4 linked regions of the Homo sapiens genome follow. The protein of the gene in region 1 interacts with the protein of each later gene in a pairwise test. Each region holds a gene or a part of one and is shown in the gene's direction. Other genes may lie near its edges.

The links. The genes of interacting proteins can lie anywhere in the genome.
Region 2: the proteins of LEPROTL1 (region 1) and PEX16 interact in binary tests that used the Homo sapiens proteins (3 or more experiments, as listed by UniProt).
Region 3: the proteins of LEPROTL1 (region 1) and VAPA interact in binary tests that used the Homo sapiens proteins (3 or more experiments, as listed by UniProt).
Region 4: the proteins of LEPROTL1 (region 1) and SLC25A46 interact in binary tests that used the Homo sapiens proteins (3 or more experiments, as listed by UniProt).

Annotation. Positions count from the first base shown.
Region 1 is NC_000008.11:30,098,201-30,102,092, forward strand, and holds part of LEPROTL1 (leptin receptor overlapping transcript-like 1), read left to right. Parts: intron 1-3,697; coding exon 3,698-3,773; intron 3,774-3,892. UniProt on the Homo sapiens protein: Negatively regulates growth hormone (GH) receptor cell surface expression in liver. May play a role in liver resistance to GH during periods of reduced nutrient availability.
Region 2 is NC_000011.10:45,912,021-45,914,877, reverse strand, and holds part of PEX16 (peroxisomal biogenesis factor 16), read left to right. Parts: intron 1-193; coding exon 194-274; intron 275-409; coding exon 410-562; intron 563-674; coding exon 675-747; intron 748-939; coding exon 940-1,059; intron 1,060-2,857. UniProt on the Homo sapiens protein: Required for peroxisome membrane biogenesis. May play a role in early stages of peroxisome assembly. Can recruit other peroxisomal proteins, such as PEX3 and PMP34, to de novo peroxisomes derived from the endoplasmic reticulum (ER).
Region 3 is NC_000018.10:9,917,016-9,920,515, forward strand, and holds part of VAPA (vesicle-associated membrane protein-associated protein A), read left to right. Parts: intron 1-3,500. UniProt on the Homo sapiens protein: Endoplasmic reticulum (ER)-anchored protein that mediates the formation of contact sites between the ER and endosomes via interaction with FFAT motif-containing proteins such as STARD3 or WDR44.
Region 4 is NC_000005.10:110,749,007-110,752,506, forward strand, and holds part of SLC25A46 (mitochondrial outer membrane protein SLC25A46), read left to right. Parts: intron 1-3,500. UniProt on the Homo sapiens protein: Transmembrane protein of the mitochondrial outer membrane that controls mitochondrial organization.

The DNA of each region.
Region 1 (3,892 bases):
TAGAAAATTTTGTGTCACAAGGTATATAGGTAATAGTGATTACTTTTGATAAGAGAAAGTTCCTTTTCACTTAATTTTTGTTCTGGGTATATGAATTACCTATTGAAAAATATATATAAGTGAGCATAGATGATTCTTTAAAATAAAAATGTGTTTTACTCTGAATTCCCATCTAACAATTGTGTCACGAAAATGAGTTAGTATAAATAAGAACTTAAGGGTCTGTTTATAGAGAATGTTGGCTTTAGTATATGGGCTTTGTAACATCTATTTTGTCTCTTTTTAGTGGCCTTTGTTTTCTCCAGGATTCTAAGTTGCGTATAAATGGCTTCTGAATGAATGAGGTGTTACTAGGTAGTATTTATAGTAATGGACTTAGCTGTCTTAACAGTACCTTTAGTGTTCAGAAAATTATCTGCATTTAAGATCTAGTCCAACTGTCATTTTAGAGAAGGAAGAACTGAGACTCATAAATTACTTGGACAACTAGTTAGTAACTATTAGGGCCTTGGACCCTCCAGAGTCTCAGTTCCATGCTGCTTCCACTCTGCTACATTCATTCCACAAATATTTGTTGAGTGTTAAGAGCCAGGCACGATCATCACAACAGAAAAACTTGCTCCCTCCTTTCGTGAAATGGACAGTTGAGAAGGAAAGACAAAATACAAACCAGTAGGAAATCGCAGCTGATAATTGAGCAAAGGAGAGGCATTCAGTGAACAGAGGACCTCAGCATACACGGGTCTCTGCCAGGAATACTCATCCCAAATACCCACATGATTTCCTCCCTCCCCTCATACAGATCTTTGCTCAGGTGGTGCTTCATCAGAGATGCCTTCCCTGGCCACTGTATCTAGACTAGCACTCCCATCCCTTACTCTACCTGACGTTTGTCATCACTTGACATTTATTCACTTGCTTATTAAAAATCATTTTCTTCTCCCACTAGAACGTGAGAGCAAAAGCTTTGATTGTTGTCATTGCTCTGTCTCCAGTAGCAAGAACAGTATCTGACACACGTTAGGTGCTCCATAGATGTTTGTTAGAGGAATGAATAAATAAATATAACAGGGAATTGGTCTAATCAGGAGGTTTGGAAAAACTTCACTGAGGCCAGGTGCAGTGGCTCACGCCTATAATCCCAGCACTTTGGGAGGCCAAGGTGGGCAGATCGTGAGGTCAAGAGATGGAGACCATCCTGGCCAATGTGGTGAAACCCCGTCTCTACTAAAAATACAAAAAAAAAAAAAATTAGCTAGGCATGGTGGTGCACAGCTGTAGTCCCAGCTACTCAGAAAGGCTGAGGCAGGAGGATGGCTTGAACCTGGGAGGCGGAGGTTGCAGTGAGTCAAGATCGCGCCACTGCACTCCATCCTGGCGACAGCGCAAGACTCCATTTAAAAAAAAAAAAAAAAAAAAAAAAAACCAGCAAAAAAACACTTCACTGGTTGAGCTGAGATCTGAAGGAAAAGCAGGAGTTAAGTTGGAGGAAAGTAGAGAGGAGTGGGAAAGGACCATGCCTCATTCACTGTTGTATCCCTAGTGCTTGTCACATATTTAGTGCTCAGTGAATATTTCTTGAATGAAAAAATGTCTGAGGCAGAAGGGACAAAGTGTGCACAGGCCACGTGAGTGAGCAAGTCTGCTGATTTCCAGGAAAGGAAAGAGGGCCAGTATAACTGAAGTGAGGGTTCAGGGACACTGTAGTAGCCTGGTGTGACACGTCACAGGAGAGGTGGGCAGGGCCCGGTCATGAGAACCAATTTGGAACTGAAGAAAACAAATGGTAAATTCAGTGTTTTCCTTACAGTTTATATTGCATTCCCCTGTAAACTTGAAGTGCCTCGTTTGCTGTAAAGTAAAAATGCAATTCTTTTCCTGTAGCTGGAAATAGAATGGTATTCAGGACTAAGTGATGTGTTCGGGGTTGCCATGACCTGCATCAGCGATCTAACCAAAAACCAAATCTGCCAAGCCACTATGTCATGGGGTGTCCTTGATTATGACTGTTTTAGTTGTGCAGAGTATATCAGTAGTACTTGGCAAAGTTTAACTTGTTTCCTGTTCATTTTGGTTTCTCTATGTTAGCCTTTGTTTTGGTAACTTTTAGACCTTCTACAAATCTTTCGAATTTTAACTTTTGAATTTTAATAAAATGACCTAACAACAACAAAACTAGTTATTTTCTTAGCCACTGTAACTGTAGAAATACAGGTTATATAGAACTCAAAATAAATTTATCATTTACTTATTTATTTATTTTTTTTGAGATGGAGTCTTGCTCTGTCGCACAGGCTGGAATGCAAAGGCGCAGTCTAGGCTCACTGCAACCTACGCCTCCCGGGTTCAAGCAATTCTCCTGCCTCAGCCTCCCAAGTAGCTGGGACTACAGGCATGTGCCACCACACCCAGCTAATTTTTTGTATTCTTAGTAGAGACAAGGTTTCACCATACTGACCAGGCTGGTCTCAAACCCCCAACCTCATGATCCGCCCGCCTTGGCCTCCCAAAGTGCTGGGATTACAGGCGTGAGCCACTGCACTCGGCTATCATTTATTTCTTTGCTTTAGTCTAGGTCATTGGTTAACTATGCCTATTCAAGAAAGTTGTTTCTATTCACTAACGTGAGAGCACCTTAAAATGTACTGCTGTGTGTGTGTGTGTGTGTCTGTGTGTGCGCGCGTAGCTTTAGAAACTATATTTCACCTGTAGAATGCATCTATTGCTTATAATAACATGTTAAAGTAGTGATACCTCAGAAGGATTATAACCCATTGTCCTACAGATTTTCTAATGTAGATTAGGGAAGGAAACCCAGCTCTACTTTTGCAAACTATTTAAAGATTTGCAACAAAATTAATTGATTAAAATCATTAACTACAGATATTCTCGGGCATTTTTTCTGGTCAGTTTTATGCACATTGAGAGTGTATGTGCCAGAAACAGGAGCTGATTAGAAGAGGTTTTCCTATAGGATGAGGTTTCTAAAGTCCAGTAAACTTGAGCATGTGGAGTTTCTCCACATACTGCTTTTCAAAACTGTAGTGATCTGTGAAGTAAATATAATTCTAATGCCCAGAAGAGCATTGAGCCTGTGGACTTTGACTCTTTAGAAAGGGAACCAGCGTCTGGGGAATATGGTGGGGTACTAGCAGTAGGTTAGAGCTTTAAAAATCGGTGTCACTGGCTGGATGTGGTGGCTCACGCCTGTAATCCCAGCACTTTGGGAGGCCAAGGCAGGTGGATCACCTGAGGTCGGGAGTTCGAGACCAGCCTGACCAACATGGAGAAACTCCATCTCTACTGAAAATAGAAAATTAACAGGATGTGGTAGTGCATTCCTGTAATCCCAGCTTACTCAGGAGGCTGAGGCAGGAGAATCACTTGAACCTGGGAGGTGGAGGTTGTGGTGAGCCGAGATCAAGCCATTGGACTCCAGCCTGGGCAACAAGAGTGAAACTCCATCTCACAAAAAAAAAAAAAAAAAAAAAAAAGGCCAGTGTCACTTCATTTTGCCTTGAAGATACCACAGAAGACTTATTCTAAGACTAGATAACTTACACTTCTGATGGCAACTTGCTATTAATACGTTTTAGGGATTTTTGCTTCTGAGGTTACAGATAATGTTCAGACTGCTGATATTAATAAAAATAATATTTAATTTATATTCCTGTTGCACTTTTTATTTGCTTTGCAGCTTTGATTAGTTTGTCCTTTGGAGGAGCAATCGGACTGATGTTTTTGATGCTTGGATGTGCCCTTCCAATATACAAGTATGTAAAATGTTTGTCTTTCTGAATATTTAAGGGTAAAATTTTTCTACTTTTAAAGCTTAAAAAAATGTTTTTTTACTACTGTAAAAGTAATGCAGAGAAATGTTCACTTACCAAAC
Region 2 (2,857 bases), on another chromosome or scaffold:
GAGTGCTTTCCTCTGTGGACGGGTCTTGTGCTGAGCCGCCACCCTGCTTGTAGTTCCCTTGACTCAGCTGTTGCCATAGTACAAGCTCATCTGTTCTCCCCTTAGCTCCTGAGCATTCACTGCACACGTTCTTTGCAGGCTCCGCTGGAAGCATGTCCCTCTGACTGTATGGCCTTCTGTCTATCCCTGCTAGATGGTGACCACAGCCCTGGCAACCATGAGCAGTCCTACGTGGGGAAGCGGTCAAACCGGGTGGTGCGAACCCTCCAGAACAGTAAGTGGAGGATGTGGCTGGCCTGGGCACCTAGGTGCTGTCTGCCTGGGCTTGAGGGACTGGCTTTGGTCAGCAGCCACCTTCCCCTGCCCCAGCCTGGGCCTGGCTCGCTCATCTGCCGCCCTTGTGTTCTAGCGCCGTCCCTGCACTCCAGGCACTGGGGAGCTCCCCAGCAGCGGGAGGGACGGCAGCAGCAGCATCACGAGGAGCTGAGTGCGACCCCCACCCCCCTGGGGCTGCAGGAGACCATCGCAGAGTTTTTGTACATTGCCCGGCCGCTGCTGCACTGTATCCTTAGCGCGGGGCAGGATAGGGCTGGCACTGTGGGCTGGGGATTGAGTGGGGAGTGTGCTGAGCAAGGCCCCTGTGCTGGAGACATCCTTGACGCCTTGGCCGTCAGTGCTCAGCCTGGGCCTGTGGGGTCAGAGGTCGTGGAAACCCTGGCTCTTGGCTGGTGTTGTGGACGTGACCAGGTGAGCCTGGGCCTGCCTGGGGCTTCACTCTCCACTGGGCTTTCTGCTATAATCCTGGCCTCACATAGGCGGGGTGGCAGCGGCCCCTGCTCCTCCTGTTGCTGCCCCTCTGGACACCCAGCCCATGGCTCCTCCCCTTCCGTGGGCCTAGATCATGCCCCTGGCCCTGACCATGTCCTCCCTGCCTCCCAGCCTGAGCCTCCTGAGTGACAGAAAGGGCCTGACCCGGAGGGAGCGGCGGGAGCTGCGGCGCCGGACCATCCTGCTGCTCTACTACCTGCTGCGCTCTCCTTTCTATGACCGCTTCTCCGAGTAAGCACCCAGGACACCCTGAGCCAGGGAGAGGGCTGGCAAGCGGGCACTGGTGCTCCGGTCCCTGCTGGCGCCTTCCCTTCCCCACGCCTCATCCAGGGTTCACCAAGCACTGTGTGTTGTCCGGGTGGCAGTCACCAGATGCCAGCCCAGTCCCGCCCGCAGAGCTCTCTGGGCCATCAGGCCACTTGAGCAGGAACTTAAACATTGGTTGGCAGGAGAGGCACTGAGGGCAGGGCTGAGGGCATTGCCAGGTGGCCCACAGGGATGGCGACAGGGCGGGCGCCCATGGCCTCTAGCTCATTTCCACTTCTTCCTGCCAAATAGTTTGGCTTATCCTCACTTCTCAGAGGAGGACCTGGAGGTTCAAGGAGGTTGGGCAACTTAAAGACACCCAGCTAGCCAGTGGTAGAGCTAGATCCCAAACCCAGGATCTCCCCTGGCCTTCCCTGCCTGGCCCAGCCCCCACTCAGTCACCTGCGAGGGTCCAGAGCTCCCAGCCTGAGAGAGGCCTGCTGGGTTGAGCAGGGGGCAGCTTGGGACTAGTTCTTCCACAGGCCTGCCACTATGACTGCTTGAGGTTAGACCACAGTCTGACAGGGGGAAACCCTGTGCAGTGGCTGGGACTGTGAGGCAGACAAGGCTCCCGGGACCCCCTTTGTCTAGGACCTAATAATAGCTTAAAAACTGGCATAGGCTGGGCAGCAGTGGCTCACACCTATAATCCTAGCACTTTAGGAGGCCAAGGCAGGAGGTTGGCTTGAGGCCAGGAGTTCGAGACCAGCCTGGGCAACCCAATTCTACAAAAAAAAAAAAAAAATAATAATAATTAGCCAGACATGGTGGTGTGCGCCTGTAAGTCCTAGCTACTCAGGAAGCTGAGGCATGAGGATCAGGCCAGGAGGCTGAGGCTGCAGTGAGTTATGATCACTCCATCCCACTCTAGCCTGGGTGACAGAGTAAGTCCCTGTCTCAAAAAAACAAAACAGAAAAAAAAAAACAAAACTGGCATAGTTTAGCCAGGCACGATGCCTCACACCTGTAATCCCAACACTTTGGGAGGCCGAGGCGGGCGGATCACAAGGTCGGGAGGTAGAGACCATCCTGGCTAACATGGTGAAACCCTGTCTTTACTAAAAATACAAAAATTAGCCAGGTGTGATGGCACACGCCTGTAGTCCCAGCTATTCAGGAGGCTGAGGCAGGAGAATCGCTTGAACCCAGGAGGCAGAGGTTGCAGTGAGTCGAGATCGCGCGACTGCACTCCAGTCTGGGTGACAGAGCGAGACACTGTCTTTTTTTGTTTGTTTGTTTTTGAGATGGAGTCTGGCTCTGTTGCCTGCCTAGGCTGGAGTGTAGTGGTGCAATCTTGGCTCACTGCAAGCTCTGCCTCCCGGGTTCATGCCATTCTCCTGTCTCAACTCCTGAGTAGCTGGGACTATAGGCGCCCATTACCATGCCTGGCTAATTTTTTTTGATTTTTTAGTAGAGATGGGGTTTCACCGTGTTAACCAGGATGGTCTCGATCTCCTGACCTCGTGATCCGCCTGCCTCGGCCTCCCAAAGTTCTGGGATTACAGGCGTGAGCCACCGCGCCTGGCCTGACCCATCTTTTTTTTAAAACAGAAAAAAGAGTAAGGCTGCTCCTTCTGGACCACACCCTGGCACCTCTCTGGACCCTGCTCCCTGTCCTTTAGGGAAACAAAGGCCCGCCTTGGCCTCCTAAAGTGCTGGGATTATAGGTGGAGCCACTGCACCCAGCCAGCCTTCTTCTTTTCTTTTCTTTTGTTTTTTGGGA
Region 3 (3,500 bases), on another chromosome or scaffold:
ACCTCAGTATTTAAAAAAAAGTTTGTTTTATACAGTCGTTAACATATAAAAGTGCATTTACGATGTAATGAATTCTGAAGTAGATCACTTGTGTTAGTAAAGAAAAAGAAGTAGACGCTGCTTTACTTCAAATTCTGTTTAAACCTTGGAAGTAATTTTACCTAGATTTCAGATTTGAAACTTGGTATTTTATGTGAAAGATTTTTTTTGTCTTTAAAATTTTTTACATGATAAAATTCCATTTATAATGTATTACACATTTTATTTTTCTACCTATTAGCAGTTTTTTTAAATTTTTTTATTTTTTGAGACGGAGTCTTGCTCTGTTGCAGTGGCTCGATCTCGGCTCATTGCAGTCTCTGCCTCCCGGGTTCAAGCAATTCTCCTGCCTCAGTCTCCAGAGTAGCTGGAACTACAGGCATGCACTACCATGCCCAGCTAATTTTGAATTTTTTGTAGAGACGGGATTTTGCCAGGCTGGCCTCGAACTTCTGACCTCAGGTGATCCGCCTGCCTTGGCCTCCCAAAGTGCTGGGATTACAGGCGTGAGCCACCGCACCTGACCCCTATTAGCAGTTTTGTAGAAAAGTTTGAAGAAGAAAGTTTATAAAATGCTAAAATAAATTTCAAATATATTCTTAATGATCAGAGAGAGACGAAAATAAACCAAAATCCTTATGTTGAGAGTGGCCGATAACAATAAATCAACAAAGAAAATTAAGCTCTCTGAGGGATCGAGGGACGTATGGTGTTAACATCAGCTAGTGCATCTGCATAGAAGCAGCACGGGGCGGGGGGGAAATTAGAGAATACTCCTCTGGATGGATATTTAGCACATTTTTAGGTGTTTCCAGTCGGCTCTTCATGTTTCCCAGTGGCTATACAAAACGCCTGGGGCTCTAAAGACATGAATGTAATCTTTAATCATATATTACTCCATTCCTTAGTTTTTAGGTAACTCTCAATTGCTCACAGAATAAAAGTCAGATTTTTTTTTTTCAGTAAGACATACCATCTCTTCCATGATGTGCCTTCCTCTTGTAACACCTGTTAGTCTGTACACATCCATACTTTCTTCCCTGAGAAAGAAAAACCCTGCTCATACCCAAGGTTCTTTGTTCCTCTATTTTTGCTGGCTAAGGTAAAATTCCTTATGACTCAGACCATGTTCCATGAGATGTTTTCCTGCTGGTTTTCAATCACTGGCTGCATTGTTTTAACATATAAATACACCAGAGTCTTTGATTTTAAAAACAAATGAGCAGACATGTACTTCTTTGACCATAACTCTTTCTAGTATGTGTCTCTCCCTGTCCTTCATTTCCTTTGCATTCAGACTTTTTGGAAAAATAGTCCATATTCACTGTTTTTCCAGTTACTCACCTTTTATTCTCTCCTTAGTCCACGGTACTTTTATCCTCTCACTACTTATTGCTAACTTAATCATTTCCAGTTTTTATCTTACTTGACCTCCCCCTGGCTCTTGACAGTACCGACAGTTTCTCTAAAAAAAACCCTCAATTCTTCTGGCTTCTATAACAGCATTGTCTTCTAATTTTCTTATTTGCTCCATTTATTGTCTTATTTGTGGCATTTTCCTCAAATGCTCATGTTTCTGAGATTCTGATTTGGTTTCATTTATCTCACTCTGTGAACTTTCTTTGTTCATTTCATTGTTTTGAGGTTTTCTCTTTATCTTCCTTGCTCTCTGCAGGTATTGCTACACCCCCAAGTCTGTTTTAATTCACATTTTACCGTCAGTCAAGAGCACATACTCAAACAACTTATTCACTATTTAGATTTGAATATTGCACAGATATGATATTCTAAACTCAAAATATCTCAAAATTTTTACTACCCATGCCTACTCTTCTTCCCATATTTTTTATTTTTATTTTTGAGATGGGGTCTTGCTCAGTTGCTCAACCTGGAGTGCAGTGGCATGCACGTTCTTGGCTCACTGCAGCCGTGACCTCCTGGGCTCAAGTGATCCTCCTGAATAGCTAGGACTATAGGTGCATGCTACCATGCCCAGCTAATTTTTTACGTACATATGGGGGTGCCGCTGTGTTGCCCAGGCTGATCTCGAACTCCTGACCTTGCGTGATCCTCCTGCCTTGGCCTCCTAAAGTGCTGGGATTACAGGCCTGAGCCATTGCACTTGGCTTTATTTTTATTTTTTAGTGGCATCATGATTACTCACACCAGAAACAATATGCATATCTAATAATTAAAATCTGTGTTTCTATTTTTGACATAATCCCTTTGTCCACTTCAATGTGTTTCTACTTCCAAATTCATTTATTTTTAAAATTCATTCAATTATGGATCTAATTTGATTAGATTTGAGTATCTGCTACATGTCAGGTATGATGAATAAATATTGGAACTACAGTTGTGAGTGAAACACAAGCCATGTTTTCATGGGGCAGTTCTAACAAGAGAGATAGATACTAATAAAATAATCAGAAGAATAAAGTGTACCCCTGAAGAGCTATATAGTGCTACGAGAATGTAAAATAAGGGTCTTCGATCAGGCTGTCACAGTTGAACTAAGATTCCAACAATGAGTAAAAGTTATCCTGGTGAAGAAGAAAGGAAAATGCATGTTCAAATATCCGGTAGCAGGAGGGACTGTGAAACATTTACCATACTGAAAGAGGTCGGCGTGGCAGTGGTGAAAATAGTCAAGATGAATGTAGTGCTGGTTTAGTAGGTCAAGTTAGGAGTTTTGTTTTTATCCTGAGCCACTAGGGTTTTTAAGTGAGGGGAGGAGCAGTAAAGATGGAGGGAATCGAATAACATCACATTTGCATTTAAAAATAATTCTGGTAGCAATGTAAAATTATACTAGAGGGGAGAAAGAGATGAATTAGGCGGCTGCAGCAGTACTGGCAAGTGGTGACCCCTTGGACTGAGGTCATGGTATTGGAGGTGATGAAAAGTTAGGTTGAATCTGTGAGACTTGGTGGTCTCTATGTGCACTGAGAGAAAAGGGTATGAATGTCTGAGATTTCTGCTTATATAACTGGGGAAATGGTGGTGCTATTTGAGAAACGGTGGATGTCTGGATGAGGACGAAATGCATCTTATTTGGGGGTGTGTGAGAGAGATGGAGGAGGAGGACGTATGGTAGATATGTTTAGGTCTTTCAGGATATTAACATGAAGGTGGATTTGGTTAAATGGGTGTGTTACTTAAGAAAAGGTCTGGGCTTTGGATAATTTCCTTACTTCAGGTCCTTTTATATTTACTAGTCAGCAGACATCTCCTTTTCTTTTCTTTCTTTCTTTCATTTTTTTCTTGAGATGGAGTCTCGCTTTGTCACCCATGGTGGTGTGCAGTGGCGCTATCTCGGCTCACTGCAACCTCTGCCTCCCGAGTTCAAGCGATGCTCCTGCCTCAGCCTCCCAAGTAGCTGGGATTACAGGCGTGCACCACCATGCCTGGCTAATTTTTGTATTTTTAGTAGAGACGGGGTTTTGCCCTGTGGGCCAGGC
Region 4 (3,500 bases), on another chromosome or scaffold:
TTGTAATAATCTAGGCGAGGCTGAGAAGGTTCTGAACTGTGGAACAGAACAGAAAGGGATGAGCTGGCTAGACATTTCTGAAGTATAGTCGATGGTCATTATGTTAGCTTGGTAATTGGAGATAGGAGAGAATGAGTTGTCAGTAGTGACTGAGATTTCTAGATTGGAAAATGTTAACCAAGATGGAGAATTCAAGAAGAAGAAAAAGTTGGAGTAGGGAAGAAGATAAAGAATTTATCTTTCAATAAATGAAGTTTGAGATTCTTGCAAGACATTGAGGGAGAGGGACATGTCTCATATTTGGTTGGAACCATGGATCAGAGTAAAAAAAAAAAAATAGAAAATTGAAGCACAGGGAGAGCTTTGGGTATTGTGGCATAAAAGTAGCAGCTGAAGCTTAGGATAGATGAAATCACCTAAGGAGAAAGCATAGATTAAATGAATAAAATGGACCAAGGACAGAATCCTAGGCATACATGTGTGCCGTGTGTGTGTGGGAGCGGTGGGAAGGGGGGTAGTTGGGGGAGATAATGAGAGAAATTAGAGAGGGCCTCAGACAAATTGGAAATAGCATAAGATGTAGGACAATCATGTTCTAGAAACCAAAAATGGGAGAATTAGAAGTGTAGATACATTTGAGAGAGAGGGTAGAGAAATTAGGGAAATTTGCTTTTGGGTCTCTCTTTTCTCTGTGAAGCAGGATACAGGGTTATTTGGTGAAAAAATGATAAGCATTGGGGTTGTAGTAGAAAAGCATGAGAGGAATGATACACATTTGGGACAGTCACAATGATGGGTAACAAAGGAATCTTACAAAGAGTATATGAAAGGAATGTTAATAGGTAATATTGGAAATTAGAAATTTTTAAGGTGCTATTTGGCATTACTCTGATTTTCTATATCAGCACTATATTTTTGTATATCATCCTATCGATAATGTTAAAGGCTTTGGAATGGTTTGTTAATCCAAATTTATTCTCTGGCAAGGTGAATTTTTTGCATTGTTAAAGAAGTGAGATAGTTGAAGGCATAGCTACTAGTGTAACGCATATGCCCAATGTTGGGATTTAGTCCTTACAGGGAAGGAAATGAAAGCAAGAGAAACTGATAGTAAGCTTTTTTCCAATGTGATTGCTTTTGAAGGACCTCGTAGTCTTGAAGTGCCTTAAATAAACTTTGCTAAAACGTTTGAAACAAAACAAAGATTAGAAAGGTCAGCAACATTTGGGCAGCTCAGAGTTTCTTGTTTTATTCTTTAAAAATCTGTATTTCGTTGTTTGGCTAACTATTCACTTTATTGCTTTTATATCACTAGATAAGATCCCAAGTTAGTACTTATAGTCAAATATTCTTGAAATTCTTTAACAAACAATTCTGTAAAAAAATAACAAAATGCAGGAAATTCCATTTGGTAGAGTGAAAAAAATTCAATGCAGTTGTTCCTCATATCTGTAGGGGATTGATTCCAGGACCCCCAGTGGATACCAAAATCCAGAGATGCTTAAGTCCCTTTTATAAAATGGTGTTGTATTTGCATACAACCTGTACATAACCTCCTGTATACTTTAAATCATTTCTTGATTCCTTGTAATACCAAATACAATGTAAATGCTATGTAAATAGTTGTTATTCTATATTGTTTAGGGAATAATGACAAGAAAGAAAAAAACTCTGTACACATTCAGTACAGATGCAACTATCCCTTTTTTAAATAAATATTGTAAATCCGTAGTTGCCTGAATCCATGTATGTGGAACCCATGGATATGGAGGGTTGACTATATTTGCAACCAGAACACTATTGGTTCAGGTCCTGGCTATTCCACTTTTTATTTCTGGGACCTTATGCAAGTAATGTTGCCTCTCTAAAGCAGAGATGAAGGAATAACATTAATTTCAGGCTACAGGGAAGAAAAAAGAAAAATAGGAATGGGAAGGCATAGGACTTTATAAAATTTTATCATCTAACTTTCTTACTCAGTAGACAGACATGTCAACTGAGTGGGAATATATTTTCATCATTTTGAATCTTTCCAAAGAAGACAAAATAGTAACCTCTATTGCATTGTTCTACTTGGATAATTTTGGTGATAAGGCCCACTCATTAATTCATTCATTTACTTGGCTAACATTTCCTGAGTACTTACTATGTGCCAGGTTCTGTGCTAAAAACCGGGTTTACAGTGAGGAAAATAAACAAAAGGTAACTGTTGCCAGGAAGCTCAGAATCTAATAAAAGTACATTCACTAAGAACAATAATTCCATTAATGAATAATTGCAAATTGAAATTTGTTTTCTGAAGCAAAAGAATATAGTTCCATGAAAGTATTAAAGGGCTAGAAACAGTGTCCCTAGTAACATGACACTTAAGGTAGATCAGAGTGGTAATTAGGAGGTACATACCAGTTTGTACAAAAATGCTGTTGCAGTGGGGAGCCTAGAGAATTCAGGTGTAACTGAGAGAAGCCTCACATGGCTGGAGCTCTGGCCAAGGGTAAGGGTACAGAGCAGGTGGGAGCCAGAACATGTGTGGCCCTGTAGGCCATTTTAAGAATATTGAAGAGGTTCAGTAAGGTCAGTGACATCAGATTTGTTTTCAAAGGGTCATTGTAACTGTAGATGAAAAGGTTGTATGAGGACCAAAGTGAATAAAAGGAGACATCTTAGTATTCTATTACAATAATAAAGGTAAGAAAAGATAGTGGCTAAGATCAGGGTGGTATCTTTTGAGATAGAGGTAAGTGGACAGTTTTGAAATATACTTAGGTCAAACTGAGGGAATTTGGTGATGCTTTAGGAATGGTAGATCAAAGAGAAGGCAGTATGAAGAATGACTTCTTGTATTTGGGCTTGTGTAACTAGTTGTCAAATGAAGCTGTTTTTTTGAAGTATAGTGTGAATATCTTTTAAAAAATTATTTATTCTTCTTTGGGCAGATTTGACCTTTCCTATTAATGGGAAGAAGGCAGAGTTTGTTTCTGTATCCTATTAATGGGAAGAAGGAGCAAACAAGGTCACAAAACATTAACAGCAGTTCACAGAAGCTACTACATGAGGAGGATGAGCTCTGAGGTCTCCTAGCCTGGGGTTTTTTAATTGCGTAACATTTACTAGGTAGAACAGGGGAGATAGTACAGATTTGCCAATATTTAGGGGTTTTTAAATACAGTTTATGATCAAATCAAAGAGAAAAACAGCAGATCTCTAGTGTTCATTAAGTCAGCAAATTTATAATTTCTCAGTAGTATTACTTTTTAACAAATTATATATTAGCCAGGATCGTCATGTGTGATCTCTTTAGCAGTAGATACTGCTAAACCCTTCCCTGTTCTCTCTCCCAGTTGCAGTGAGTTAAACCATGTGTCGTTCTACCCCCACAGTACCCTTTACTTAATTTACATGTGGCTTTTTTCAGACTGTTAACGCGAGGTAGGAGTTCCTGTAACCAAGGCTACCTGTGTGGTTCAGTCTCTCACAAAACCCATTTGGTTCAACTCCAA